4 linked regions of the Homo sapiens genome follow. The protein of the gene in region 1 interacts with the protein of each later gene in a biochemical or structural test. Each region holds a gene or a part of one and is shown on either strand. Other genes may lie near its edges.

What was found.
Region 2: of the proteins of IBTK (region 1) and PRKD1, one has a biochemical effect on the other in vitro, tested with the Homo sapiens proteins (one study listed by BioGRID).
Region 3: the proteins of IBTK (region 1) and BTK form a complex in vitro, tested with the Homo sapiens proteins (2 studies listed by BioGRID).
Region 4: of the proteins of IBTK (region 1) and PRKCB, one has a biochemical effect on the other in vitro, tested with the Homo sapiens proteins (one study listed by BioGRID).

What each region holds. Positions count from the first base shown.
Region 1 is NC_000006.12:82,244,193-82,251,703, reverse strand, and holds the start of IBTK (inhibitor of Bruton tyrosine kinase), read left to right. Parts: upstream 1-3,959; 5' UTR 3,960-4,142; intron 4,143-7,511. UniProt on the Homo sapiens protein: Acts as an inhibitor of BTK tyrosine kinase activity, thereby playing a role in B-cell development. Down-regulates BTK kinase activity, leading to interference with BTK-mediated calcium mobilization and NF-kappa-B-driven transcription.
Region 2 is NC_000014.9:29,924,258-29,932,028, reverse strand, and holds the start of PRKD1 (serine/threonine-protein kinase D1), read left to right. Parts: upstream 1-4,181; 5' UTR 4,182-4,516; coding exon 4,517-4,780; intron 4,781-4,932; exon of another isoform or gene 4,933-5,063; intron 5,064-7,771.
Region 3 is NC_000023.11:101,375,843-101,383,518, reverse strand, and holds part of BTK (tyrosine-protein kinase BTK), read left to right. Parts: intron 1-5,495; exon of another isoform or gene 5,496-5,660; intron 5,661-7,676. UniProt on the Homo sapiens protein: Non-receptor tyrosine kinase indispensable for B lymphocyte development, differentiation and signaling. Binding of antigen to the B-cell antigen receptor (BCR) triggers signaling that ultimately leads to B-cell activation.
Region 4 is NC_000016.10:24,181,587-24,189,262, reverse strand, and holds part of PRKCB (protein kinase C beta type), read right to left. Parts: intron 4,153-7,676; coding exon 4,072-4,152; intron 3,804-4,071; coding exon 3,696-3,803; intron 1-3,695. UniProt on the Homo sapiens protein: Calcium-activated, phospholipid- and diacylglycerol (DAG)-dependent serine/threonine-protein kinase involved in various cellular processes such as regulation of the B-cell receptor (BCR) signalosome, oxidative stress-induced apoptosis, androgen receptor-dependent transcription regulation, insulin signaling and endothelial cells proliferation.

The sequences.
Region 1 (7,511 bases):
CATCCGGAAAGTCTTCACAGATATGTGGGGAGGTGACCCTCTGTAAGTAAGGATTGGAAAGATAATGATTCTATAGGAAGAACGCAGCTGGGACCATACACCTGAATCCAGAAGAACACAAACACCCTATGTGGCCTATTGTTTTGTCTGCCTCACCCTGCTTTCTTTTGGGGAACTACTCTTCACTCTGCTTTAACCATGACTCTAATAGAGGATGTCAATCATGTTATCCTTGATTCCTCACCTAATCCAAGCCGACATGAGTCCGTCAGGTGCCTAGAACTTTTGTGCTTGAGATAATAGGCTCAGTGCTATCTTCCCTAATGGCAAACCTGAGGTGAGATATGTGATTTATGTGAGGTACTTAATTTGTGTGCCAGAAAGTTGTAGTCAACCAGTGATGTCCTGTAGAAGATGGTGTGGAGTAGAAGAGAATGAGGCTAAACAATAAGGTTCCAGTCATCTCTAGGCCAGCTGCACTATTGATCTTCCTCTAAAAATCATTCTTGTAGAACCTAATCAGGTTTGGGTTTCTAATCAAATTCTAGTGTTTTCTCTTCTGCCACCAGCACTGTCATTTCCTACTCCTATACAACTTGAAAGACAGCAAAATACACATAATGATGTCAGTACTTTTAATTATAAAGGATAGTACTACCAATTTATTTTGGAAAAATGGTATTTAGGGAGTTTATTATAGATGCCATGTGGCTTAGAAATATTTCTGCAGTGCTCCACTCTTGATGCCTGTACTATTCTTTTTCTACTCCCTCCGCCCATCACTGCAATCTTTTTATTTATTTATTTATTTATTGAGACAGAGTCTCGCTCTTTCACCCAGGCCGGAGTGCAGTGGCGCTATCTTGGCCCACTGCAATCTCCACCTCCCAGGTTCACGCCATTCTCCTGCCTCAGCCTCCCGAGTAGCTGGGACTACAGGTGCCCGCCACTGCGCCCGGCTAATTTTTTTTGTATTCTTTAGTAGAGATGGGGTTTCACCGTGTTAGCCAGGATGGTCTCGATCTGCTGACCTCGTGATCTGCCTGCCTCGGCCTCCTGGGATTACAGGCATGAGCCACTGTGCCTGGCCCATCACTGCAATCTTTTAAAGTCATCTCTGGTTTTTTTATTTTTTACTTTAAAAAATAAAACTACTTTAGAAACTCTAGTCAATTATTTTTCCAAACTTTGATTTTTTTAATCATTCAAGTAATATTTAAATTATTGCAATGAAAATTACAAAAGTCAAAATGATAGAAATTAAGAATCACCCATAATCCCACCATAGAAACAATCATTGTAGATATATTTTGACCTATTCTTTCATGTGTAAACACAAAATTTTTTTAAAAATCAAACAAAATGGCTCATTTTGATTTCTTCCTCCCTTAACCACATCTACAATATATTTTTCATTTAATTGTATTTCATTTGTACTATTTCCTAATTATTTTAATATTTTGTCTTGCAAATAACCAGTAAGTACTTTTGAAAGCATCTAACTTTCCTGGGAAAAGGGGAGCAATTCTACATTCCTTTGACTGGAATGTTATTTCTTTCCTGCTTCATCTACTTATCTCCTCGTTATCTAGTTATCTGAGTTATCTTCTGCTCAGTCTTTAGTTCATGTGTCACATCTTTTGGAAGTCAGATAAATCTATCAGATTAATACTTATAAACGTTGCAATTTATTATGCTTGGGAATATCTGGGTCTACATGTATTTTTGTTCACTGTTGGATCCCCAATGCTTACCACAAATTGTCCGAGACCTGGTAATTTTAACTTTTATTTATTACTATTTTTTGAGACAGGATCTCACTCCGGTTGCCTAGGCTGGAGTGCAGTGGCGTTATCTTGACTCGTTGCAGCGGCGTGATCTTGACTCACTGCAGCCTTGATCTCCTAGGGCTCAGGGTATTCTCCCACTTCAGCTTCCTGAGTAGCTGGAATCACAGGCGTGCGCCACCATGCCTAATTTTTTTTTTAATTTTTAGTAAAGGCGGGGTTTCACCATGTTGTCCAGGCTGGTCTTGAAATCCTGGGCTCAAATGATCCACCTGCCTCTGCCTCCCAAAGTGCTGGTATTACAGGTGTGACTCACCTTGCCTGGCCGTAACTTTTAAATTAATGAATGCCTGCTTGGACTAATTCAGCCACTAAGGAAATACTTTATTCATTAGCACTATTTATGAAGTATTATTGTGTGTGACTAAGGCTCTCTGCTAAGTGCTATATATCTCTATCATTACATTTTCACAACCCCAAAATACATTATTTCTCCCATTTTGCAAATGAGGAAACTGAGGCTTCAGAAAAGTGAATTAACTTGCCCAGATACAAGAGAGAGAAGTTACGAACTCAGGTCAATGCATTTATTTACACTAGCAGCTTTATTTGCCATTATTGGCTTCTTTGTTCATGAATATGAAAGTCATTATATGTAGCTTCTTTTTTTAAATATCTGGAGATACAACTTAAGCTTATTTTCTTTCTTTTTTTTTTTTTTTTTTGAGACGGAGTCTCACTGTCACCCAGGCTGGAGTGCAGTGGCTCGATCTGGGCTCACTTCAAGCTCCGCCTCCCGGGTTCACGCCATTCTCCTGCCTCAGCCTCCCCAGCAGCTGGGACTACAGGCACTTGCCACCACGCCCAGCTAATTTTTTGTATTTTTTTAGTAGAGGTGGGGTTTTACCGTGTTAGCCAGGATGGTCTCGATCTCCTGACCTCGTGATCCGCCCGCCTCGGCCTCCCACATTGCTGGGATTACAGGCGTGAGCCACCGCGCCCGGCCAACTTAAGCTTATTTTCAAAACCACTCAATTTTGACATTACAAACTGGTTTTTGTTTTGTAGAAGGACATTAAGAATAAAGAGCAAAGAAACAATTATGTGCTGGGAAGGGCAGTAGGAGGGCTGGGTCCTAGTCTCCCTTTCTCTTTCGCTAAGCAGCTGTGTGGCTTTGGGCTAGTAACCTACCCTCCCACAAAAAAGGCTTCAAAAGAGAGCAAGCAGAGCTCAGTGGGCATTAAGACATGCGCAACTCCTTTCTTTTAGAGATTAGATGAGGTCGACTCAGTGGCTTGTAAAACTCAACGTGGCAGAGCTGTACAGCCAACTCATGATTCTTAGTGTCGTTTGTTTTGAGTCACACTACACCTCCTTGAACAATCATTTACTGAGTGCTTACCGTATTAGGCATTCAGCAGCAGTGTGTTTCCCATTCAGTAACCTAGTATTGATTATTGGCTACTGTCCCTCCTAGCATTTTTCACTTGACCACTTTCTAAATGGCCTTTAGATTCAGAGTTCAAGTGGAAAAAGCCTAGTGTAAGCCTGGTGTCAGGCAGTGAGTGGCGTGACCCGGGTCGGCAGCTAGTCCTACGGTGGTGATCTAAGAGGGCAGTGACGCCTTCTGACCAAGGGAGTGACTGCCAGATAATCCGGGTGTATGGAGATCCAGAGAGGGGTGAGGCTGGGTTTACGGAGACTACACCTTTGGCTTTGCAGTAACCCCACTGCTAAGGCCATGGGAGGAAACTCTTCTGTGCAGGACGCCTATGCACTTGGCTTCTGCTGCGTAGCGACCGGGTGTCCAAGGCATCCTGCCAGGTCTCCTTCTCCACTCGGGTTTAGCCTCCCCCGCGAGTCTCCAGCTACCTAGAGAGACGTTTCTAACTACGAGATGGCTGGCCTGAAAGGGACACTCCCATCACCGTTGTTGGCCTAGAGTTCCCCGCTGCGGCCTTTTTCTTTTCCCCGCCCCTGGCCTGAGTCAGCGGCCCCAAGGCCGGCGAGGTCAAGTTCCTTTGGGGCGCCAGGGAAAAGGCCATGGCAGAGGTGCTGCCACGCGAAACCTTCTGGGCAGGCACCAGCCAATCATCAAGAGACATACAGGAGCCCCAGCCAACCAGCGCCCGCCTTATTACTGGGAACCGCCCGCTCGGGCCCTTCCTCTACATCCCCGTTCCCGATTCCTGTAGTAGCGGCTGTATTGCAGCCGCCTGCCGAACTGACCCGGGTCTGGGGACTGGCCCCTCTGGCGCCGTTCGGTTTCTCTTATTGCCTTCACTGAGGATGAGTCCCTTTGTGGCTCTATGTGGACCCTGCGGAATCCACCGGCGCAGTTTCATCTAGCGACTGGTGAGGGAGGGCTTGGCGCTGCCCGACCGTGCGGTGCGGCTTCCCTTCAGCCCGGGGGCAGGGGGAGAGTATTCGCCTTCTGGAGGGTGCGGGTGGCTGCGGACGGCGGCGCGGGGGGACCGTGGGGAGGGGACTCTGTGGCCCCGAGGCTGCCGGGCTTCGCGCGAGGCGGCGCGGAGAGGGCCGAGTGGCCAGGGTCCCTACCGCCCCCCTCAGCTAATGAATGGCCTGTCCCGGCGATGCGCTACGCTCCCGTCCTGCTGGACACGCCCTCCAGCGACATTGCATTCCTAGTTGTGATAGTTATGTAGTGTCACTTTCCTTCGAGTCTTGGATTTGAAGCCATTCCTGTGGGCGCTCATGTTCCTTATCCCCTTCCTGGAGTCACAAGTTTGAGTCCACCCTGGGGATACTGACTCTGGGGAAGCAGGTCGTGAAATCTGATAAGTGGACATTGATTGCTATGTAAAAAGGAACTGATTCTTTTTGGAGGGTGGAGGGTTGAGAGAGACAGAGAAGACAGGCCCTTTGTTTTTGTAACAGGCAGAGCTGTCTGGCTCAAAGAGTTTTAGTTCAGCTGCGAATTAGGTAACATAGGCCGTCCTTGACTCCTGTTTTCCAACGTAGTTCATAAAACTTGACTGTGTTAGCCAGAGATTCATGTAGCACCTTTTAACTTATGCCTCGAAGTAGGCCATTTGAAATTTATCAGAAATACTGAAAGGATATGACTTTTATGAGTAGTAGTGTTTCAGTGCCCATAAAGTGGTGTAAATTCACAGGCTTGCCAGCCCCCTCTTGATCATTTCTCTTTTTGTATTTTGAATTCCTTAACTTTTATTTGTTTTAGAAATTGAGGCAAGGTAGATGAGGACAAAACTGGTTTCTAAAAATAATTACATTTGCAAATATTTGCAGAAGCTTTAGTCAAACCAGAGTTTACTTCAAGAAATTTTTTAGGCCGGGCGCGGTGGCTCACGCCTGTAATCCCAGCTACTGGGGAGGCTGAGAATTGCTTGAACCCGGGAGGTGGAGGTTGCAGTGAGCCGAGATCGCGCCGCTGCACTCCATCCTGGGCGACTGAGTGTGGCACCATCTCAAAAAAAAAAAAAAAAAAAAAGATGCCTGTAATCCCAGCAGTCTGGGAGGCCAAGGTGGGCGGATCACTTGAGGTCAGGAGTTCGAGGCCAACTTGGTGAAACCCCGTCTCTACCAAAAATACAAAAAAATCAGCCAGGCATGGTGATGTGTGCCTGTAATCCCAGCTACTCGGGAGGCTGAGGCAGAATCGCTTGAGTCTCCAGCTGCCCTACCAAACTGCTTTTGAATTCAATTATTTTGAATTGAATTCCATGGTACTTTTTTCTACTACACTATACTACTTGCATTGAAATTTTTCTAACTGCCTTTTGGGAGAGCAGTTTGGTAGCATAGAATAGGTGGGATCAAGAGCACTTTTCTGTCGGTATTATTTTAGGTAGGCTTTTTAAACTTTCACATGAATCTCCTCATCAGAAAATGAAAGTGATCATATTTACAGGGGCAATAATAAGGATTATATTTATGTAGAGCACTGTGTATAATGTATAAAACAAAATTTCACCTATAATTTTTGTGTGTTTTTTCCGTTGTTTAATTTTGTTTTGCTTTACTCACTTCCAAAGTATTGACCCCTTACTCTTCTTTCTAGTTTCCCTATCTGTTCTCCAAGCCAGAAACCTGGGAATTACCACCACATCTTGTCAATTCAAGATCCTAAGTATGTCTTTGGATTGCCTGCCCTTTTTTTTTTAAATCTCTAAGAAAAGGCACATAAGGCTGTTCAAAATCCTGTCTATCCTTGTGTGTATGTTAGGCCTCACTTCTTTCTGTCTTCTGAATTATTTAGAAATTTTGGAATGGACCAAGATGATTCTAGTTCTTTTATATTTACTATCCCTTCTGCTTCAAATGTGCTCTCACCCAGAATTTATCAGGCCAACACATATGGTACTCTTTTTTTTTTTAGAAGGAGTCTCGCTCAGTCGCTCAGGCTGGAGTGCAGTTGCATGATCTTGGCTCTCTGCAGCCTTGACTGACCAGTTTTAAGTGATCCTCCCACCTCAGCCTCCAGAGTAGTTGGGACTACAGGGATGTGCCACTACGCCTAATTTTTGTATTTTTTTTTGTAGCGATGGCTTTCACCATGTTGCCCAGGCTGATTTCAAAGTCCTGGGCTCAAGTGATTTGCCTGCCTCAGCCTAACAAAGTGTTGGGACTACAGGCATGAGCCACTGTGCCTGGCCAGTACTCATCTTTTAAGTCTTAGTTTATACATAGTTTATCTCCTGTAGAAAGTCTTACCTGGACCCCTCTTCTGCACTCCCCGTTCCTATGTGTCACTTGTTTTATCTTGACCATAGGTTTATAATTATGATATGTTTTAGTTACTTGCCTAAATAAAATTACTCTCTTCTACCAAACTGTGACCCTTTGATAATAGGAACTGTGTAATAGATCATAAGTTTTGTTCAGTTAGTACATATGTTAAACTAGCTATGCATCCACCTGAGTATTATCCATGAACCTGTATTTTATTTTATCTAAAATATTTAGGTCCTAATTATTTTTGTATTCCCAATGCCTTGTGACCTACTATGGATGCGCTGAAGAAGACAGTGTAACGTAGCAGAAATAGCACGGACCTCATCATTAAACAGATCTGTATTTGAAGTCTGACTCCCTCTTTTCTTGGTGGTATGATTTAGGTGGTTTACTTGACTGGTCTGATGTAAAGCATTCCGTATGTATTAGGTCTTTAAATGCTTATTTCCTTTGCTTTCTTCCCCTTCTTTAAGCAGTTTTTGAATGCATAGATAAGAAGTACAATAGGCATTGGAAATATGGGCCTGGAGTTTAGGGCAAATATGTGAGCAAGAGACAGATTTGGGGATTTATAATCATGTGTACGGTAGAGTTAAAAGCATGAAAAGGATTGAAACTATCAGGAACAATATGAAGTAGAGGACTGAGGATTATTTCAGAGAAGCCCAGTTTGAAGGACAGGGGAAGCGATAATGCCCTAGGAAGAAGTGGTTAAGAGAGAGAGCCCATGCTTAAATGTTTCTGCGACTTCCTGCCCTTCCTGGATCTCTTTTAGACTCCTTAAGGGAATGAGGTTTTAAAGACATAAAAGCAGGGAAGGCAAGTAAGAATTGAAAATATCTAAAAGTGTTTGGTAATTTGGAAGTCATTAGTAACTTTAGCAATAATGATTTCTTTGGAGAAGTGGTAACAAGTGATAATGAAGCTCAAACATGAATTTTGGAGTTAAAATGTATTACCTTTTTATGACTGAAGAAACAATAGTAATGAAAACTATTATTTGTC
Region 2 (7,771 bases), on another chromosome or scaffold:
ATTTGGACAAAGCATACAGTGAGTGAGGCTGAGTGCCACTCAAATCAGGTTATTCTCAGCCCTTTTTCTGATTTTTGTGAATTATTGTATATTTCCAAAATGACTTGAACATACAACTATCTTTTGAAGACAACCTGACAAGATTAACATTCATCGTTGGAAATTGTTGGAAGTACCTCCACGTAACTCTGCATACCCTTGCAGGTCCACATCACTTTTATGTGGGCATGAAACTTTTTTTTTCTTTCTTTCTTTTTTTTTTTTTTTAATTTGAGATGGAGTCTTAACACTGTTGCCCGGGCTGGAGTGCAATGGCGTGATCTCAGCTCACTGCAACCTCCGCCTCCTGGGTTCAAGCAATTATCCTGCCTCAGCCTGCCAAGTAGCTGGGATTACAGGTGCCCGCCACCATGCCCGGCTAATTTTTTGTATTTTTAGTAGAGACAGGGTTTCACTATGTTGGCCAGGCTGGTCTTGAACTCCTGACCTCGTGATCCGCCCACCTCAGCCTCCCAAAGTGCTGGGATTACAGGCGTGAGCCTAGGCCTAGGGCATGAAACTTTCTTACCCTTGCAGGTCCACATCACTTTTATGTGGAGTCTTCATTAGGGCATGAAACTTTCTTTACAAAGTGGTGCTCCCAGTCACTGCTAGAAGTCCCTTATTCTTGTCTTGTTAGCCAGGATTAAAATAATGAAAGCCCATTTCATGAATATAATTAATATAAGCTACTATTCACTTTCTATATCCTCTTTTCTTTTCCAAGATTAAAACATCCAGAAGAGATTAAAACCAGATTTTCCCAAATCCTTCAAGTTTTCTATGTTCAATTTCAAAGTTGCCAGAGATATACACCAGGTTTATTATAGATATTCTCTGTTTATTCATTCCCTTGTCATTCAGCAAAAGTGAGCAGCAGTTGGAAAACTGTTAGATTTCAGGTGCCTACAATAGAAATTGCAATAACCAACTCCATGGGAATTTTCTGTTTGCGATGGGGAGGTCCAGTAGATACACGATTTTTTTCTTCTTGTTTTTCTTTATTCACTCTTTTGCATTCAGTAATATTTCACCGTCTTAAAAGTAATGTTAATTCTCTAGGGCATCTTTAGAATTCCTTCTCCTGTTTCCTTATCAATTATTTCCAACACCCTACATAAATCTTTCATACTATTGATAAATCATAGTCTAACAAGAAGTTATTCATACTTTTTTTAAAATTCCTGTAAGTCTCATAACTGATAAGTACTTTAAGCTCTTTCTCTCTAGAGCTCTCATCTAATCTCACATTGAAATGCCTTCTGCACACTGAGAAGATTTCTAAATGTATTTCTGACCCTCTTCTCTTTTCTGGATGCTGGACCCATATATCCAGCTCTAGATGCTATTTCTAAGTTGAATATCTAGCAGCATATCAAACTCAACATGGTCAAAGTAGAAATCTTATTTCTCCCTGAACTTGCTCACTCTCTATCTTCTGTGTCAATTATTGGCACCACCATCAGTCCAATTGCTCAGAAACTTGGGAGTCTTTTGTGACACCCTTGTTCTCTCACTCCTTGTAAATCTCTGACTCATTCAGCAAGAACTTCCGCCAACATAGAGCCTGCAGTTTCCCATTTCTTAGCATCTCTTCTACAACCATAGGAGTCTAACCCGTGTTTCTAGACTCAAAAACAGCAATAGTCTCCTACCCAGTGTCTCCACTTTTACTCTTTTCTCTTATATTCCACACAAAATCCAGAGTAATCTTTTAAAACATGCTAATTAATCTTATTATTCCCTGCTTTAAAACCTTCCAATGGGTTGGTAGTGCACTGAGAATTGAAATAAAAACACTTTACCATGGCTTTCAAGACTCCTGGTAACCTGGTTTCTATTAGCTCTCTGACCTCATCTCACGCACTTGCCCCTCTTTTCCTATGCCTTGAAAATGTTAAATATATTTCTGTGTTAGAGTCTTTGCACTCTCTGTTACCTATGCCTACAATGTTATTCCCCTAGTTCTTCTGAAGTCTACCCTTTCTATCATCCAGATTTTGGCTCAAATGTAAACTTCTCAGTGAAGTCTTCTCTCATTCCCAGTCCAGAGCAGTGCCCATTTCTTCATCCCTCCTCCCACAAGTCACTGTCTTCGCCATTGGGTTTAAAAAATTCATTGCAATTATGAATATTAGAAATAATATCATTTGTGGTTTTACTCCATCCCCCCTCCCCTTTTCACTGTGATCTTTTTAGGGCAAGGACCACCTGTCTTCACAGCTGTGCAACTGGTGCCAGTACAGTGCCTGGAACAGAGAAGTCCTCAACATGCAGTTGTGATATCTATAAAACATGAATGTCTTCAGCGCTCTTGAATCTCAAGTGAAACTAGCTTTTTGTAAGTCTCTTGTAAACTGACCAGCAAGCTTTTTTTTGATAATAGAAAACTGTGGAATATTAACTTTATTCTGATTTCAAAGAAAATGAAGTATAGTTTCGGACATTTAAAAGAAAAAAACCTCCTTCAGAATTCAGAAAGGCATTTCATCAAGAAAAATTCCACCATTTTCCTAGATTAGCTGAGTCTAGAACATTAGGAAAATTACCTACCTGTATCAGGGATGAAGAGGACCACCTCATAAGTAACTATGCAGGGAAAATGTAAACACAGGTAGACCTTATCAAACCATCACATTCAGAGAATAAATTCAAGTCTCTTCAATGCAGTTGTGCAGCCTTGCAGTGTTTGGGGCTCCATTACTGACCCTGGGAACACGGTTCTAAAGGAAGCTACCTTGCAATATCTTGGGCCACAACCAGAAGTTAAGACAATAAATAAATAAATAAATAAATAAATAAATAAATAAATAAAACAGAACAAAATAAGCTATACAAAATACAAAATGTTTGTTTAGGTATGTTTGTGTGTACTTACGCAGAGGAAGGGGAAAGTCTAGGGAAGTGGCGAAGAGAGAGGCAAAGCTGACTACATTATCTGCGTGGCCCATTGCAAAATACAAATGTGAGACTCCTTGATTAAAAATTATGAAGAAGAACAAAACAGCGACAGTAGACTATTGTCCCAGAATATTAAACCAAACACGGGTCTTATGAGCTGTGGCCTATACAACTGCATAGTCGCACACCCATGAAGCCCACCCTGGTTGGAGGGGAGAATTATAATTCATCTCCAGCGAATGTAAAGCAATCCCCACCCTGCCAAAACAACAGTAAAAATAAACGGCGATCCAAATTAGGGCAGGTTGTGCCCAATCCTGATGGCTGTGCTTGTGATGACGGTGGCGGTGCTGAGGTGGACTTGGGGGCACTGCTCCTATATAACAGACTTTAGATTGATAGAGGAGAAGGAAAATAGTTTCTGAAGCTCCAAAGTAGAAACTTCAGGCGCAAAGAATAAGGTAAAGGAAAGGAGACCGCATCAGACCTCCCTCCTGCCCTTGGGCAGTCAATGCCTTTTCTTTCCAAAGCGACCCTCTCCTTAGATCACTGTGTATATCCGGTGCCTTAGGAGCTGGGGTGGAGTACGTAGGTTTGGCTGTAAGGGCGCGTCAGAGCGACAAAAAGGGTAGAGACAAGTTTAAACCCCTTTCTGTGGAGTGGCTTCCTACCCTCTTTGGCCACAAACCCCAGGGCTCCCAGAGGGGCCTGGATGTAAGTGGGTTCCAGATGACCCATCCTCCCTTGACCCTCCGAAGGTAAGACCCAAGGGGAACCGCTGTGATCAGCATTCTTGAATTCCTCAAAAGTCACCTCACTTGTAGAAGTGCGTAGTCCTCCAGCATTTGGAAGAGGTGGCAGGGACCTTGGGGCCCGGGAAGTTCGCGACCCCAGGAAGCGGGTCTGAGGCGGTGCACCCCATCCACTCCGTCCGCAGTCGGGGCGGGGCAGCGGGACCCGAGAGGACGGGAATCCCTGCAGGGAGGGAAGGGCCGCGCCTGCCGAGGCGGCTCCGAGCCCCGCCACTCGGTCCTATCCCGGCTCGCGGAGGCTCAGGCCCCGGGAACTGCGGGCGGAGGGGGCGGCGACCGGGCACCCTGCGGCCACTGCGGCCGCTGCTCCTGCGACTCCCGCGCCCGCCGGGTGGTGGCTCCCCAGTGCCCGCCCCCAGCTCCCCTTCCCCGCCCCTCACGCCCCCTTCCCGCCCCGGCCCCCGCCCGGCGCTCGGGCCGCGCCGACCCGTCGCCCCGTCCTTCCGAGCGCGCCAGGCGGCAGATTCTTGGCGGCGGCGGCGCCTCCCCAGTGCCGGCGGCCCCGAGCCGGCTGCCGCGTTCCGGGCCTCAGAGTCCTCCCGCCTCGGCCATTTTCCCTCCTCCCCATCTCCTCCCCTTAGTCCCCTCCCCTCCCGATCCTCATCCCCTTGCCCTCCCCCAGCCCAGGGACTTTTCCGGAAAGTTTTTATTTTCCGTCTGGGCTCTCGGAGAAAGAAGCTCCTGGCTCAGCGGCTGCAAAACTTTCCTGCTGCCGCGCCGCCAGCCCCCGCCCTCCGCTGCCCGGCCCTGCGCCCCGCCGAGCGATGAGCGCCCCTCCGGTCCTGCGGCCGCCCAGTCCGCTGCTGCCCGTGGCGGCGGCAGCTGCCGCAGCGGCCGCCGCACTGGTCCCAGGGTCCGGGCCCGGGCCCGCGCCGTTCTTGGCTCCTGTCGCGGCCCCGGTCGGGGGCATCTCGTTCCATCTGCAGATCGGCCTGAGCCGTGAGCCGGTGCTGCTGCTGCAGGACTCGTCCGGGGACTACAGCCTGGCGCACGTCCGCGAGATGGCTTGCTCCATTGTCGACCAGAAGGTAAGTCGCCGCACCGCTGCCAGCCCGGCGCCTCCCCGCGGCGCAGGGGGCGCTGCCCGGCTGGCCCTCTCCGCGCCAACTTTCCGGCTCCCGGGGCTCGGCTGGCCGCCAGCCTCGCCGGCGCTCTGGAAGCGGCTGGCCCCGCCGCGGCTGGACGCCTGCAACCCGAGGCGCTGCGCTCGCTGTTGCTCATCCTCCTCTCGCCCCATCTTCCTCTATTCACCGATTTCTCTCCAGTCCGCCGCCTCCTCACCCATTTCCATCCTTCTCATGACATTTCCAGGTATCTTGCCCTTTCCTCGCCGCGCCCCTCCTTGTCCTTGAGACTTCCCAGTTTTCTTCCCCTCTCTCCCCTACGGACCCTGGACCAGCGCATTCCTGGTGCAGGAATCCTCCTTCCTGCACCAGAGTGCCCCCGGAATGACCTGGAGACAAGGAATTTCTCACCTGTCAGATAAGCTTTTAAGAGAGTGTGATTGACTCGGCCAGTTGTCAAAACAACTGACCAGGAGTGCAGGTACCCAAGGCCTTGTCATCTTTTAGTTCCACTTCTGTATGAGCATGGAAACACATTTTCCAACGACAAAACCTGAAAGTTGCGACCTTCCTATTTTTCATTCCCGGGATGCTGATAGTAGGACGTTGAAGTGGTGGGGGTGATGTCCAGGAACACCCCGAGGCTGGCTGTGTCCTTAAGTTTGAGGCTGTGGGGCTCTGGACAGCGGCCACTGAAGGCAGGTTAGAAGGGTCATTATCCGGGGCCAGGCCACCCCCAGAGGAGACTCAGCCCACCCACCACTGTTTACAGTAGCAATTTGGATTTTCAGGTTGCCTCTGGAGCCATCCAGATGGATGTTGCATGGAAGGGGGTGATACAGACGTGAGGCAGAGGGGGCCATGGCGCCAGTCTTCTTAGTGTAAACAGCCAGCGTTTCAGGAGTGGAGACAGAGGTCTCTAAAGGTGCTGAATTTTTCAGCCCTGGAGGACTGGCTAGCACTCCTTTTGCTTTCTAATTATCACTTGAATAATCATGAATTGCTTTCTTTAAATTATTTGTAACAGAGTTTGCTAAATCTTAAGGGTTGTGAATTGCAGCACTGAGCACAGGAATGTTAAAAGCTCCAGGTGGAAAAAAATCACTGATCTAGAAAGTTGTGAAAGTTCTAGACTAAGGTAACAATGAGTGCCAGGAATTTATTTATGGAAATTTACTTTTATATTACGGGTAATGTCAACTGTTTGCAACTTCCAAGAAAATGACACGTTTTGTCTAATGCTGATGTAAGTCATATCATGCTCCTTTTCCACATCAGTATTGTGGAATGTCTATTGTGGGTCAGCAGGAGCACTCCTAGGCACTGTGAAAGCCTTGTATACAATCCTCTCCATTTGGATGCAGACCAGTTAATGAAACAGCAATGCTTCATAAGCACGTATACAATGTAAAACAAAATTTCTCAAAAAGCAAAGGTAATTCTGTACAATTTTAACTTTTCTAAATTCTAAAGCAAGTGAAGTAGTGTCAGAGAATATTCAAATTGGGTCAAAGTAATATTGATAGACTTTGTTTTGACCAGCTTGAATTCTCCCTCCACCCCGCCCCCCACTTCCTCCTGGAGTTCAGAATGGGGAGACTGATGCCTAGTTCAAGAGGTTTGGTAGTGGGATTTTAAATGGAGGGTGAATTCCAGGTGTCTCAGAAGCTACCAAGGGGCGTGTTACATGGAGAGAGTGAGACGAGAGCAGAGGGAGAGGGACAGCAAGCACCTATGGAATGCAGCAGGCCTGCAGGTGGTGGCCTGGGTATTTAAGGGAAGTACAGTTATGAAAAGGCCTTGAATTAAACTCAAATTGCTAGAAGCCTCAGTAATCTTTTCATAGCGACATCATACCAAGGACATCTGAAAGATGGATTTGCTGTATGGAGGTTTTAGAATGCCAAAAATGTTATGGCAGAAAGAGCACCGAAGTTCAGTCATGAGCTAGTTGGAACATGAGTCAAGACTTGGGGGAGAGACTGGGAGAAATACTGGAAAGGGAAAATCATCAGCCCTGATTGGTGACTGATTTATAAGGGGAATCCTTTCCTTTTGTATTTATTCTAGTAGTTTCTTCTCTCTCTCAAAGAAGTTTGAAAAGTTTGACTGTTTGGAATAGTTAAGGTAAAGATCTCACTTTTTTTTTAGGTTATAAAAAAGTTGGGGTTAGATTTATAGATGTGAACTTGAGGGTTATTTATATACAGAATACTGTAAATAAATATATACTGGATAGTGTTTCTGGACAGAGGACTTTTTCAATTTCTCTGTCATTTGTCATCTCTTTCAGAATATATTATTATCCCAGCAGAAACAAAATTAAGAGAGCTGAAGGTCCATCACAGGATACAGGATCTCTGTGTGTTGTGACAGTAGGAATGGCAGAGTGTCAGTGTGGAGTTAAGGAAGTGGGAGGGAGTTCTTTTGTCTTTTATTTCAGTTTTTTTTTGGAAGTACCTTATGAGGACGTCAGCTATGAGGAAGGATGACAGGAGTTTGGGGATTGGATGTTTCAGGAGAGAGCAGAGGGTTTGAAATCATTTACAATTTACTATGTGGGCTGAAGTCGTGTGGAACTTACAGCAGAAGGTTCTCCTGATCTTTCTGAGTCTTCCACATCTGTTGTTTTAAATGTGTTAAGAAGTTTTTCATTCACTTTGTTCAGGAGCTCCCTAAGTACTAACATAGATCATACGAGCATTGGAAATATTAGCTGACAGTTTCAGTAACATCACAGGACATTTCCTTTGGGATGAGCAACTGAGGTGTACAAGGCTGCATAAGTTTCCCTGAGAAACTCACCTGTAAATTATTATTGTTATTATTTAGAATTTAGAGTATAGTTGTTCTCTAATTATGTAGCAGACACGATTGTACTTGAAACATTGTGATGGTAATTCAACAAAAAATACTTATTTTAAGATAACGTACCCTAAGTATATACTGACTTAT
Region 3 (7,676 bases), on another chromosome or scaffold:
CAGAGTTTTAAAAATGATTAGAAATGGACCAGAAAAGAGATAAGGATAATGAGAAAGGGGGCTCTCTAAAACTATTTGGAACTGAAATTGGGACAATGTTTCTGGAAACTATTTTGGCAGTATGTATCAAAATGCAAAATGCACATACTTTTTTGACTCTGGAAATGATGCTTGTATAGAGATCCTAATAACATGGGAAAATAATTAGGAATAATGTTAAATAAGAACATTAGATCTTTTTTTGGAAAAAGGTACCTTGAACGGATGGATGGATGGATAGATACATACATACATGCATACATACATACATAGATGTTACGAAAAATAGGTAAATTAACTGAATGTGCAATATGATCTCAAATATTATAAGAAACACACACAGAAAAAAATGGAAGGAATATGCCGATATATTAATGCCTCTGGATGAGTTTATGAATGATTTTTTCTTTTTTATATCCCTGTACTTGACATATTTTCTACAATAAGCATGTTTTATTTTACTATATTTTGTTTTATTTTGAGATGGGGGTCTCCCTATGTTTCTCAGGCTGACCTTGAACTCTTGGGCTCAAGCAATCCTCCAATATCAGCCTCCTGAGTAGCTGGGACTACAGGTGCACCCCACTGCACCCAGCTGCGTGTGTTATTTTGATATCGATGGAAAAAATAAATAAAATGTTTAAGCCAAGGAAAACAAAAACTAGGTTGAAAAAGAAGGCCAAAAGGGCACACAAGTCCAGAGTGAAAGACAGACACCCCAGCAGTCACCCTCAGAGCAGAGGGAGAATATTGAAAGTATTACCACTGATCTGATCTGGCACTGACTATAAACTTGCAGATTGGCTCTCTGGCTCTCCTTCCATCATCAGTTGGCCAGAATATATTGTCGCTAATGCAAGACAAAAAGAGATGATGAATCACAGAGACCTAGAAGTTTCCAAAACCACAGAAGAAAAATGTAAAATGCTAAAAACATAAGGCCAGGCGCGGTGGCTCAAGCCTGTAATCCCAGCATTTTGGGAGGCCGAGGCAGGTGTCATGGTGTGCGGCTGTAGTCCAAGCTACTCAGGAGGCTGAGGCAAGAGAATTGCTTGAAACTGGGAGGTAGCGATTGCAGTGAGCCAAGATTGCGCTACTGTACCGAAGCCTGGATGACAGAGCGAGACTCTGTCTCAAAAATAAATAAATAAATAAATAAATAAATAAAACATGAACTGCTGTGGAAGAACCAGAGAGCCCTAAGGCCTCCTGTAAATGACTACAGCAGGAGAGTTTCCCTGGTCAGCATGCAGCTTTCGAAAATTGAGTTTGGCTTGATGCCTTCATCACAAATTTGGTCCCCTGTAGCCTTGACTATGAAGCTTATCATAAAATAATTGGGTTTCACTGGGGCCCGAACAAAAGCATCTTGGGAATTTAACAAGATTAAAGGTTGCTTTGTTGCTGTGGGTATGATTTTTTTTTCTTTTTTCTTTTTTTTTTTTTTTGAGACGGAGTCTGACTCTGTCACCCAGGCTGGAGTGCAGTGGCACGATCTCGGCTCACTGCAACCTCCGCCTCCTGGGTTCAAGCAATTCTCCTGCCTCAGCCTCCTGAGTAACTGGGATTACAGGTGCGCGCCACCACGCCAGGCTAATTTTTGTATTTTTAGTAGAGACAGGGTTTCTCCATGTTGGTCAGGCTGGCTGCTCTCAAACTCCTGACCTTGCCATCCAGCCGCCTCAGCCTCCCAAAGTGCTGGGATTACAGGCATGAGCTACCACACGTGGCCATATGTAAATTTTAAACATGTAAACCAATACTGTATATCTTTTATAGATATTTACATCTGTAATGATAATATGAAAACGTACCTAGGAATGATAAACACCAAATTCAAGATATTGGTAATCTCTAAGGAGGGAGAAGACTAAGATTTTGGAGTACATAAAGGGGTCTTGATTATATAGATAGTATTTCAGTTCTTAACACGTTCTCTTCTGGTCCCAAGGCCAAGGAATTCTCAATTGAAATCTCAGTTAGAACGTGAAGGATGCTTCTTGGGACTGGGAAGAGATTTTCCGTAGGCCAAATTTAACCTCCCACTAGAGATAGTTGATAATTCTACCACATTTCATAGTGAAGCATCAGGAAGACAGGACTGAAAAGGCAAGAAGGAATGATGCAAATTGCATAGTCCAAAAGATAAGCTGGACCTAGGTTTGCCAGTTTGTCTAAGTAACTGAGAATTCATTCTGAGATCAAAAAATCAAAATAATGTTCACAGCAGCATTGTTTATCACTGAAAGCAAACAACCTAAATGTCCATCAACAGGAGAATGAATAAATATATTGGAATGTATTCATCATATAGAATATTTTATGCATATAAAAATGAATTAAAACATATGAAGTAGAACTAGCCAGATAAATAAATCCTAACATATTATATTGAGGGGAAAAAAGCAAGTTGCTGGAGAATGTGTACCATATATATATATATAAATTTTCTTTTTTTTTTTTTTTTTTTTTCGCGACCGAGTTTCACTCTTGTTGCCCAGGCTGGAGTGCAATGGCAAGATCTCGGCTCACTGCAACCTCTGCCTCCCGGGTTCAAGGGATTCTCCCGCCTCAGCCTCCTGAGTAGCTGGGAGAGTAGCGTTGGCCCAGCTAGTTTTTGTATTTTTAGTAGAGACAGGGTTTCTCCATGTTGGTCAGGCTGGCTGCTCTCAAACTCCTGACCTTGTCATCCACCCGCCTCAGCCTCCCAAAGTGCTGGGATTACAGGCCTGAGTTACCGCACCTGGCCATATGTAAATTTTAAACATGTAAACCAATACTATATATCTTTTATAGATACTTACATCTGTAATAATAATATGAAAACATACCTAGGAATGATAAACACCAAACTCAAGATATTGGTAATCTCTATGGAGGGAGAAGACTAAGATTTTGGAGTACATAAAGGGGTCTTGATTATATAGATTGTATCTCACTTCTTAACACGTGAGGCAATATGGCACAATTTTAGGATTTTGTAGAGCTAAGCGGTGAGTCCAAGATTGTAATGTTATAGTCCCTGTACTTTCTATTTGAAATATTTCATAATATAAAACAAAGTATATTTGAGGCCAGGTGCAGCAGCTCATGCCTGTAATCCCCACACTTTGGAAGGCTGAGACAAGAAGATCACTTGCATCCAGGAGTTTGAGACTAGCCTAGGCAACAAAGTGAGACCCGTGTCTCTACAAAAAAATTAAAAATTAGCTGGGTGTGGTAGTGCACACCTGTAGTCCCAGCTACTTGAGAGGCTGAGGCAGGAGGATCGCTTGAGCCCAGGAGGTGGAGGCTGCAGTGAGTGGTGATCTTGCTACTGCACTCCATCCTGGGTGACAGAGTGAGACCCTGTCTCAAAAAAATAGAAGGTATATTTGATCAAAGTTTTATATTCACAGTAAGCAATAAGAACCCTAGGGACAGAGAAGGGTGGATGTTCCACCTAAACACTGTGCTTTCATTCCATCAACAATGAAACATCCAGGAAAGGAAACAACAAGTGACTCTAGAAATTCACTAGTTAGACAGAATCTCCTTGGGAATGATTTAAAGAGGGAAAATGTAAGAAAACCTGGCAAGACTAAGAAGAGTCCTCAAGTGCAAAAAAAGTATAGTTGACAGTTACCAGAGACAGATCATCCTTACCAGCCTGGAGGAATATTGCAGAGGAAAGAGCTTAGGATCTTGAATACTCTCTTATCTCCTGTATTTACCACCATTTCCTCTCTTGCTGAACATTCCTAGAAAATGGAGAGGAGTTTGTCACAACTGCTCTTTGATGATAGCCATGGAGAATGACAGGGGCCCCAAGGCAGATGGCATCAACCTCATCAAAGACCAAAAAACAAATAAACGAACAAAAATCCCTCCGGTAGGCAGTGAAACACCACAAAAAAAGCAAGGGCTATAGATGATATACCAAGAGCTACAGATGGATGAGGTTGGACAAGTCACATAACCTCTGTGTCAGTTTCCTCATCTGTTTGTTGTGAGGAATAAATGAAATAATGCCTGTAAAATGCCTGTCAGGTAGAAGTCACTGAAAGGAACAGAAGTTCCATTCCATCCCCCTAAGGAAAGACAGGGAATGGCCAGAATCTTCCTAGCCAATTGAGTAGTGCTTTCAAGGAGAAATCAAGAGAAAACACTACTTCTTGGATATTTTGGCTAAGTAGTCATTTGAAGTACAGTTGACTGGTTATTTTATTTTAAATCATATCTCATAGACTCTTCCCAATCATAGGCTGGCTGTGTAGTTTTCTGAATTTTGCTCTGGTATTCTTCTTCTTTTTTTTTTTTATTTTTATTTTTTATTTTTTTTTTGAGACTCCAGGCTGGAGTGCAGTGTCACGATCTTGGCTCACTGCAACCTCCGCCTCCCGAGTTCAAGCGATTCTCCTGCCTCAGCCTCCTGAGTTGCTGGGACTACAGGCGCCTGTCACCACGCCCGGCTAATTTTTTGTATTTTAATAGAGACGGGATTTCACCATGTTGGCCAGGCTGGTCTCTAACTCCTGACCTCAAGTGATCCGCCAGCCTCAGCCTCCCAAAGTGCTGGGATTACGGGCATGAGCCACTGCGCCTGGACTTATTATTCTTAATAGTATTTTATCTTATGAGCGAAGATAAGAGCCCAAGATGGTTTAGTTTACTGATTCTGCAAGTGCTATTTCTATTAATTCCTTGGCATACTGCAGTTTGTATGATGGCTGCACTCTTGTTAATAAGCTTCGTCTTTCTGAATTCTGTTGCTCCATAGGGAGCTGGGAGGCTGCAAAAGGTGGCCCTGTAAAAATCTTTGCATTTATAATTTAATAAAGGGGACATTGTAACACTGGAACTCCATATTTTAAATGAAGAGCTCTGTGTCTATTTTTTCTCCTCCCCCATTTCTTTCTTTCTATAAACAACAGTGGTGTGTGTGTGTGTGTGTGTGTGTGTGTGTGTGTGTCTGTATGTTTGAGACATTCAAGTCACTTCCATTTCCACCCTTCACCCTGAGTGGAGCTCAGGGTTAGCCATCATTGTGCATATTTTGTGGTCAAACCGACTCTGTAGGCTACTGAAATTGTTTTAAAAAAATTGGGGCCTTTACTGGCCAGGCACGGTGGCTCATACCTGTAATTCCAGCACTTTGGGAGGCCAAGGTAGGCAGGTCACCTGAGGTCAGGAGTTCAAGACCAGCCTGGCCAACATGGGGAAACCCCACCTCTACTAAAAATACAAAAATTAGCCAGGTGTGGTGGCACACGCCTGTAATCCCGGCTACTTGGGAGGCCGAGGCAGGAGAATTGCTTGAACCCAGGAGATGGAGGTTGCAGTGAGCCAAGATCGTGCCACTGCACTCCAGCCTGGGCAACAAAGCAAGATTCCGTCTCAAAAAAAAAAAAAAAAAATGGGGCCTTTCACAATAAGTACCCACAGAAGCTTTACCCTCTAACTACTTTTTAACTCAGAGCTGTGTGTTACACACCAACCTTCTGGAGGACTCAAAAATGGATCCCTTTCCTTTCACATTATTGAGTGATGGACCAGTGGCACCTAAGGAAGAGCTACCACATTTTCAGGCTGTGTGAGTCTGGACTGGATCATAAGAAACAGGAGAAAAGCAGTCAAAGAAGGTGGTACCAAATCATGGCAATTCTGGTAGACCTCTAGCTCAATGATCTAGAGGTGGAGGCCATTTCACCTTTTGCTCAGAGGGGCGATGGCTAGTGAGAGACTTGCTTACTTCCTCATAGTCAGAGCAGCACTAAACCCTGCCCAAACACAGATACTTGAGAGAGAGGAAGACTTCCTCTTGTACAAACTGGATTTGTTCTAAAACAGAGAAAGAGTAGAGGCAGCTTCCAGAAGGACCTGTCTTATAGGAAGTAAGAGCAGGGGACAAGAATGAAACAGATGGTGGGTCTAAGCAGGGAATGTATCCACCAAGAGCCTGCAACAAAACTAAAGATAAAATGTTGCCTGCGATTTATTCGGCTAAGAGAAGTACACCAGACATGGTTTGTTGGGATGCTTCTGACCCCATTTACTGGTCACAGTACTCAATTTATTTAGGGTTTTATTTTTTATCCTGTAATTTGAGTCTTTGATTGTGAAGAGGTACTTAATTATAATTTGCCACAAGAATAATTGTGGTATGATTACAGGGCTCTCAATGAGTTGGTAGTTCCTGAGAATAGAGTAGTATTATTTGGTTACCACTACTCCTGAGTAAATGCATAATTGTAATGTTAAAATGAACCTCTTTGAGTTTAGAGCTAAAACTGAGTGTTGGGAAGGGCTGATTGTAAACTCATCAATTTGTCACTCCAGTGAGAGACCATTTAAACCAGGGAGTCAGGGTGTGTGGCAGGGTGGAGGGAAAGGTTTGCACTCTTGCCCAATTTTTCTCAAAATCTAATTTACAAAATATTGAATTAATCCACCTCCAGAAGATAGTGGCATACACATGGTAGATAAGTGGCAAAGCGATCTTCCAGAACACCCCTGGTGTTCCTTTGACGTATTTTCGTCTCCCCAGCATGAGAATAGAACCTCCTACACCACAGGAAAGAGCAAAATAACAGTGTGGATAGCCCCCAGGCTTTGATAAAATTCACTCCCTTGCTTTCCTAGTGTGAGCAATAATCTGCTTAAAAAGTAGAAAAAAACTGCTGGCTTTATTCATTCTGCTTCCACGGTGCCACCAAAAGCATAAGGAGTTTACTTAAAAAATAGACACATTCCCACCCCCACCCCCCCACCAGAGGAAAAATCCCTACCACTAATTAAACTTGAATGGAGGGCTGGTGGTTTTTTCGTTACTTACTTAGTGTTTTTTTGTTGTTGTTTTTGATTTTGTTTTTTGAGACGGAGTTTCGCTCTTGTTGCCCCGACTGGAGTATAATGGCACAATCTCGGCTCACTGCAACCTCCGCCTCCTGGGTTCAAGCGATTCTCCTGCCTCAGCCTCCCGAGTAGCTGGGATTACAGGCATCCACCACTACGCCCGGCTATTTTTGTATTTTTAGTAGAGACGGGGTTTTGCCATGTTGGCCAGGTTGGTCTTGAACTGTTGACCTCAGGTGATCCGCCAGCCTCGGCCTCCCAAAGTGCTGGGATTACAGATGTGAGCCACCGCGCCGGCCTAGTGTTCTATTTTTATGACAGCATTTGTTTTCACTTTATCTTTCCAATGAAAGTTCGGAATTAGTAATAATATTACACTGTGCATAAACTGTAAGTGAATAACTGATATGAAGTGTTGCTTGGTGTGAATAAAAAAGCCAGTGGTGACTTTGGGAACTTTATTTGTCTTTCTGTGTTTCAGTTACCTAAATTGAATCCTTCTGGAGTATTGTAGGTTTGGGGAGGCTAAATAAGTTGTGTTTCATAAATGAACAGAGGTGGCATCTATATCAGTAAGACAGTTGCATCACTTTTGCATGATGCTGTCTAAAAGAACTAATTTAAGCTAAATGGGGAAAAGGTCAGAAAACAACAACTACCCCCCCCCCACCAAAACCCACCAAAAAAAATTATGTTTTCAACTTTAGAACAAATCTTCTATCCTTTGTAGCTCAGTCAGTGGGTGTGGGCAAAATCAGTTGGGCAGCAGTTAGTGTGTGTCCAGAACTGCAGGTGCAGCCTCC
Region 4 (7,676 bases), on another chromosome or scaffold:
TGAACACTCAGAGAAGTTGAGGAACAGTAAGGACTCCAGAGAGGAAGTGGTAGAGTCAGTAAGAGCTGGGTGCAGACTCCACCTCTGCCTAGCTCTAAAACTTGGGCTTTTAAGAAAAATGGGAGTGCATTTCACACGTGGTTTTCTCAGGAATTTTTGTGGCCTGGCTTTGTCAGGAGAGGTTTATGGAGGGTGAGGAAATTGAGCCAAGGCTTGACATTTGTGTAAGATTAGGATGGGAGGAAAGAAAGGGCAGTGAGGTTTTGGTTCACACTGATAATAACATCAATAACGGCTTCCGTGTACTGAGTATGACAACATCATATGCGTTCAGGCTCCGTGCTAAAGGCTTCCCGGCCATTACCCATTACTCTTTAAACTTTGCAACAATACTCTAAGGCCTCAGCAACTATTATCCCCCATTTTCCAGGTAAAGGATGTGGGTGCAGAGAAGTAAAGTCATCTGCCTAAGGTCAAACAGCTAAGGAGCAGGGCAAGGCTTTGAACAGCTCTGCCTGGCTCAGGACTCTTATAGCTTTATGTTCAGTCTCAGCTGTTCAGTGTCTGCTGGTTTTCACCCTAAGGTCCTGTCTATTTGGGCTTCTGTTTGCTTCAAGTTTGTTCAAAGTGGGAATAGCCATCTGAGTAAGGTTTTACTAATTTTTTTTTTTTAGTAGAAAATCGGGCCTTTAAGGGAATGGACATATAAAGGACACTGCTTCAATTAAACAGGTGACTGTTTTCAAAAGCTCAACTGAATTTCTGTCTAAGCAGGAGGATGCCAAGCAAAGAAAAGGTACTGCAAAAACATCCAGCATTAATTCGGAGTCTCTGCCCAGTTCCCGCACTCTGCTCTAATGTGCCCGAAGCCATGTAGACAGCTGGATTTAATCACTGTTCCAATCTCTGATCACCTCCCAGACGTATCCCCTGGGGCTCGCTGTTCCAGAGGAAGCATTTGGCTGTTTGCTTGAGCATCACTCGTTTTTGGAGTACCCTCCTTGAAGGAAGAGCCCCATTGGACTCAGCCCACTCAATTAATAATGGTCCCCAAACTCAATAGTAAGAGAGTCACCCCAGTTAATCATGAAGGTTATGGGTCCTGAATTAATAGAAAACGGCTCTACCAGGGAAACTGCTAATTGGAGCAGGAGCTGAAGGCAGCTGACCTGGAAAATGCTCTTTCCTCCATGACCCATTTAGAACCCCCAGCTGTCCAGGCAGGGCGGGCGTGTGAAGGGGAGGACCCTGTGGATGTATTAAACACCTACTATGTGCCCACATCATGCAAGGAGCTTTCTCTTATGTTATCTCATTTAATGCTCTCAAAAACTCTTTTCAATGAGTACTACTATTCCATTTTTTAAAATAAACAGAAGCCCAGAGATGCAAAGGAAGTGGCTTAAGATCTTGCACCTAGGCTGGGTGCAGTGGCCCATGCCTGTAATCCCAGCACTTTGGGAGGCAGAGGCAGGAGGATCCCTTGAGCCTGGGAGATCAAGGCTGCAGTGAGCCATGATCACTCCACGGCACTCTAGCCTGGGCGACAGAGCGAGACATTGATAAAACAAAACAAAACAAAACAAAACAAAACAAAACAAAACAAAAACACCTTGTGCCTAGAAAGTAGAAGGGTCAAGATTTGCAAAGGGTCCCTTGATCTCCAAAATCCCCTACTTTAAAAGTTGCAATTCCAGGGGATGCAAACTCAAATGCCAAGAGGAACCTGGCAGATAACACAATAGCGTCAGCACTAGTAATAGTAATAATAACTTCCAAGGGGCTTGGAGCAGAGTGCCAGCCTCTATTCTAAGTGATTTACAGTATTCAGCTGTTTAGTCATCAAAGAACCCAATGTGGAGTGCTATTATTATCCCCAATCTGCAGATGCCGTCAAACAACTTCCCCAAGGTCCTGCGGCAATTAATGCCTGAACCAGGATTTGAACTTGGAGAGAATTGGCCAAATGAGAACGTCTGAGAATTACAGAGGGCAAGCTCCAACTACAGAGGGCCATGGTTTCCAATCCAGCTGACTGGTGCTTTGTAAGAATGACAGGCCAATGTGGCAAGATCTGATTTTTCAAGAGAAACCTGAAAGCTGAATGTTTTTGAGAAATCTCTGGATCCTTATATGCTGGTAATTATTAAACAAACTAAAAGCTCCAGGTACCACCTTCTCTCTACCCGCCCCCACCCTTCAATAACTTGTCTACGGGGGCCTGTGGAGGCCTTCGTGTGTGCCTTTTTTTTCTTTATGGGCTTTGCTTGGGTTCCTAATGCACCTCTGGGACTCCCCTCTCTATTCTTCACTTTCTTTCTCCCTGCCTCACACCCTCAAAGAAAATATTTTCAAGCAATTCACTTTAGATGTTCGGGATTGAGACTAATTCACAGGTGGTTTCCCCAGGGATACATGCATCTTAGCCTATGCAGCTGAGGTGCAAACCTTAGGTGATTCATTGAGAGTGGGAATTTAGGCAGTGTGACAAGGCGCTTTTAGGCTGAGAGGCTGGCCCAGCTATTCCAAACTGGGCCAAGCCTCAGATTGGCCTGCCTGAGTTTCCCAGCTTTCCTTCACCCAAGACAGTGCATCCAGCATCTGGCTGGGGTCAGGAAGAACAAAGTAGGGCATGAAAAGTCTGCAAGCATCCCACAGATCTAGGACTGGCAGCCCTGGTTTATTCAGACACACAGGTGGGAACCCACTGATTAAGGCACGGCCATGTTCTAACCTGTACCACTGGGTGGAGGGAGAGCAAATCCTTTATTAGTATATTATGTGTAGAACATATTTTCTGGGCGTCTAATTCTATTGCTTTCAGGCTTCCATCAGAGTTGAAAAATCACTTCATTTGGACAGTATTTTTAAAGGCAGTGGTCTGCAAGCCAAATGGAGACTTTTCCAAAATACTCATACCCAGACTTAATCTCTGGGGTAAGGCAGAAGCATGTGCATTCTGGTAAGGCACTTCGGGTTATTCTGATGGCTCCAAAGGTGAGGGTCGCTGATCTTTAGGATCTCACAGAAGTCACTGTGAGTATGCCCTGGTCCAACACAAGATGCAAAACAAACAATCCTTCCCCATAAACACACATCCTGCTTTCTTCACAGGTGCCCTGTGCATAAACCGTAGATGTCCAAGCGTGCATGCCCTTTTAGCCATTTGTGTGTGTGTCTGGGGAGAGGAGACAGTGGGATTTTGAGTACATTGAATTTCAGTCTGCTTATCTAGAGAATTCCTTAACCTCAACACGGCGTGGTATTTTTTAGAACAAAAGTTGCACGCTCTTAGTATTAACTAAACACATACAGCAGAGCAGGGCAAGATAGCCTGAGTTGTGCAAAAGACCTCTTGTGCCCTTTCCCATGACTTCCAGCTCTTTGACAAAATCTCTGTGCTTTCTACCTCATTCATTCAATAAGCATTCCCCTGTGCTGGTTCAGAGACTGCAGCCCAGCCAGCAGCAAGACGCAGCTGCAGGCAGCTCTCTACAGCACTTCTGTGCAAATCAGAAAAAAAGCTCTCTCTCCTCCGGGAGGTAGCAGCTCCACATCAGGGTTCTCATATTGGCAAATGGAGTGAAGGGTGGAGTTCAGGCTGTGTTCCCCCCTGGTGGGGTGTTCTTGGGCAAGGTACAGCCCACATGCCTTTATGTGGTGGTCCTGGTCACAGCTTTAAGAGATGCACTTACCCCTTTGCAGATGGCCACAGCTTCCTTGGACATAGACTTGGGATAGGCTACGTTGTGTTCCATGATGGATTGGAAGAGTTCATCTTCATCCTCCCCTTCAAAGGGTGCCTGTATGACAGGGGAGGGTGGGAGGAGAAGAATCCCTGCTTGAACCCTCCCCCTAGCTCCCCTCAACTGGCAGACCCTCCTCCCTGGGGCCCACAGTGAAGCCACACACCCAGGCTTTCAAATGACCACAGACTTGTATGACCCCAAGGCCGGGAAAGTCATAGAGGTTCCAATTTATGAGCTGTTACCAAACATGCATTCTCCTAAAGAAACCATGTGGATGGGGGTAGGGAGGACTTCTCTTATCGATCACTTAAAATTCAATTACCTGCCCAGCCAACATTTCATACAGCAGGACTCCAAATGCCCACCAATCCACGGACTTCCCATAGGGCTGATAAGCAATTATCTAGAAAAGAGAAGGCACCCTATCAGGGAGGTTTGCAGTTCATGTTTCTTCTGGAGACAGATTTCACTCTTCTTTTACAAGAAGGCCAGTGCCCACCTGAACTGTTTCTTTATATTAGCTATTCAGGGAATGACAGACATGCTTTGCAGAGGCACCTGCAGCTGGGCAAACACCTGTGGCTGTCACATTGCCTTTTCGAAGCACTAAGTAAGGTGTATTGTTATTATTATTTTCAAAACAGTGAGCATGGAATTTTTAAAAGGAAAAACTGTCTTTACTCCTCTGTAAAAGTTACAACATTTACACAATAATGTAAATATACTTAACACTACTAAATTGTATACTTAGAACTGGTTAAAATAGTAAATTTTACGTTACATGTTTTTAAAACATAATTAAACATAAAAACGTTTAAGAGATAACAACATTTGTCACTATTTTAATATTTCTTTATAAAAGATAGCTCAGCTGAGATAATAACATGAAAATCACCCATAATCCTTTATTAAGAGAAAAATTATGACTAATATTTGGTCTACTTCATTCCATACTCTTTTCTCTGAATACATATTAAACTCTGTGTGTATGTGTGTGCTTTACATAAACACTTTAGTATTTGGACGATTTTTTTTCTTTTTTTCTTTTCTTTTTTTTTTGAGATAGTGTCTCTTTTTGTCACCCAGGCTGGAGTGCAGTGGTGAGATCATAGCTCACAGCTCACAGCCTTGGCCTCCTGGGCTCAAGCAATCCTCGCACCTCAGCCTCCTGTGTAGTTGGGACTACAGGTGCTCACCACCATGCTAATTATTTAATTTTTTGTAGGGATGGGGTCTCTCTATATTGCCCAGACTGATCTCAAACTCAAGCAAAGCTCCCATCTTGGCCTCCCAAAGCACTGGGATTATGGGCAATAGATCTTTAATAAAGCCAGTTATTCACTTAAGTTTTCCTTGCTAATTTAATATTTGTATATGAACATAATCAATTTTTATCTGTGCATAGCATTCCGTTGAATGGATATACCAAAATCTATCTTATAAATTTCCAGTTGATTAGGTTTCTTCCAATGCTGTAACATATATTCTTGTAATTAGACATTTGGACATCTGTCCAAGTATTTCCTTAAGATAAACTCCTAGATGTAGAATTGGTGTATCATATGGTATATATGGTTGTGAAGTTTTTAATTCATATTCCCAAACTGCAAGAACATGGAAAAGTCTAGAAGAGCTATGTGATTGTCCATCTTTCAGTATGCAGGGATGTAAAACTAACCATGTCAGAGGTTAAGAGGTAATACAGCAAAGGCTAAAGGCTGAGGTCTGAGGGTTAGGCAGTCTGACTTTGAATCCTGACTGCTGTCTACCGGTTGGCTGTCTGACCACAGGAGAAGTTACTTAACTTCTATAATCTCTATATCATGAAGTTATGTGAGGATGAATGAGATACTCGGTGGCTTTCACATATTATGCCCTCAAAATGTTAACTAATCCTAGAATGTTTTATAATTCAGTTATTGCTTGTTTAACTCAAAAAGGGTATTTGAGCAAACTTGGCTATAAAGTGAATGTTTGTTTCTTGATCTCTATCTCCCACTTTGATTTCTATTCCAAAATCAGAAATGCAGAGATGTTGATTACAGGATACAAAATTTCAGTTAAGTAGCAGGAATAAATTCAAGAGACTTATCGTGTAACACAGTAACCATAGTTAATAACAATCTATTGTATTCTTGAAAATTGCTAAGAGGGATTTTTAAGTGTTTTTACCATAAAAAAATAAGTATGTGAGACAATAAATATGTTAATTAACTCAACTTAGCCATTCCACAATGTATGCATATTTCAGAACAACATGTTGCACATGATAAATGTATACAATTTTACTGGTCAATTATGAATGAATGAAATGCATTCTGAGAAGTAACCCTCAAGACAAGGAAGGGAAAGCATTCCAGGAGAACACTTCTCATTGAACGTGTTTTCCACTTTGGGAGGCCGAGGCGGGCGGATCACGAGGTCAGGAGATCGCGACCATCCTGGCTAACACGGTGAAACCCCGTCTCTACTAAAAAAATACAAAAAAAATTAGCTGGGCGTGGTGATGGGCACCTGTAGTCCCAGCTACTCGGGAGGCTGAGGCAGGAGAATGGCATGAATCCAGGAGGCAGAGCTTGCAGTGAGTAGACAGAGTGAGACCCTGTCTCAAACACACACACACACACACACACACACACAAGAAACAATGTGGGATGCCCAAGCATCATCCCATTAGAATCTCTGCAGGTGGAGGCCCAGGATCTGTGGTTCTCAGAAGTTCCTCGCTGGTCGTGATTCAGGCAAGCACAAGAAACCCTCAACTGTGTGGCTGGTGAAGTTGCCTCCCCTCCAGCCCACAGATGGGAGGGATAAGCAGCAGGTCAGGCTTTGTCATGAGCTAACCACATCACCTTCGGCAACTGCTGTCACATCCCAGGCTCTAGTTTCCTTTGTAAAAGGATTAACTTGTTGGCTTGTCATGAGGATCAAATAAGACTTGAAGTACTTTAAAAGTGTGGAAACACTTTCTTTCTTTCTTTCTTTCTTTTTTTGAGACAGAGTCTCGCTCAGTCGCCCAGGGTGGGGTGCAGTGGCATGATCACTGCTTACTGCAGCCTCTACCTGCTGGGCTCAAGTGATCCTCCCACCTTAGCCTCCTGAGTAGTCAGGACAGCAGGGGTGACCTAGTGCACCTGGCGAATTTTTAATTTTTTTTGTAGAGATTAGGGTCTCACTATGTTGTCCAGTCTGGTCTCAAACTTCTACCCTCAAGCGATCTTCTTGCCTCAGGCTCCCAAAGTGCTGAGATTACAGGAGTGAGCCACCATGCCCCAGCTGCATCCTACATTGTAAAAGCTCCCTCACGACTCTAAACTGCAGTTAGAGTTGAGAACCAGAGATTATGGAACCCCTGGCCTATCAGGAAGTTGTGTTATGGATTGTGTCCTATCTAATTAATTAACAAAATGATAATAGACCAAAGCATATCACATAGGGAAAACTTCACTGGGTCCGAGTAAAGCCTTATTATTTTTAAAGAATTACTTTATTACTCAAGTAATACCCAAATACATTTACCTTGTAAAAAATGTCAGCAGTATACAGAAATAGCTAAATTTCTCTTTACAATTCCCTTATCCTCAGAGGTAACCAGTGTTATAAAATCAGTTTGAAATCTTCCAGATTTTTGTATGCTTTTACTCATTGAAAACAGAACAGTGTTCTGTGTATTTCTGTTTCATCCATAAATAGTATCATAGTGTTATTTGTCATTCTTCTTCTTTTTTTTTTTTTTTTTTTTGAGACAGGGTCTTACTGTGTCACCCAGGCAGGCTGGAGTGCAGTGGCATAATCACGGCTCACTGCAGCCTGGACCTCCTGGGGCTCAGGTGATTCTCTTACCTCAGCCTCCCAAGTAGCTGGGACTACAGGCATGTGCCACCACACCCGGCTAATTTTTGTATTTTTTGTAGAGACGAGGTCTCG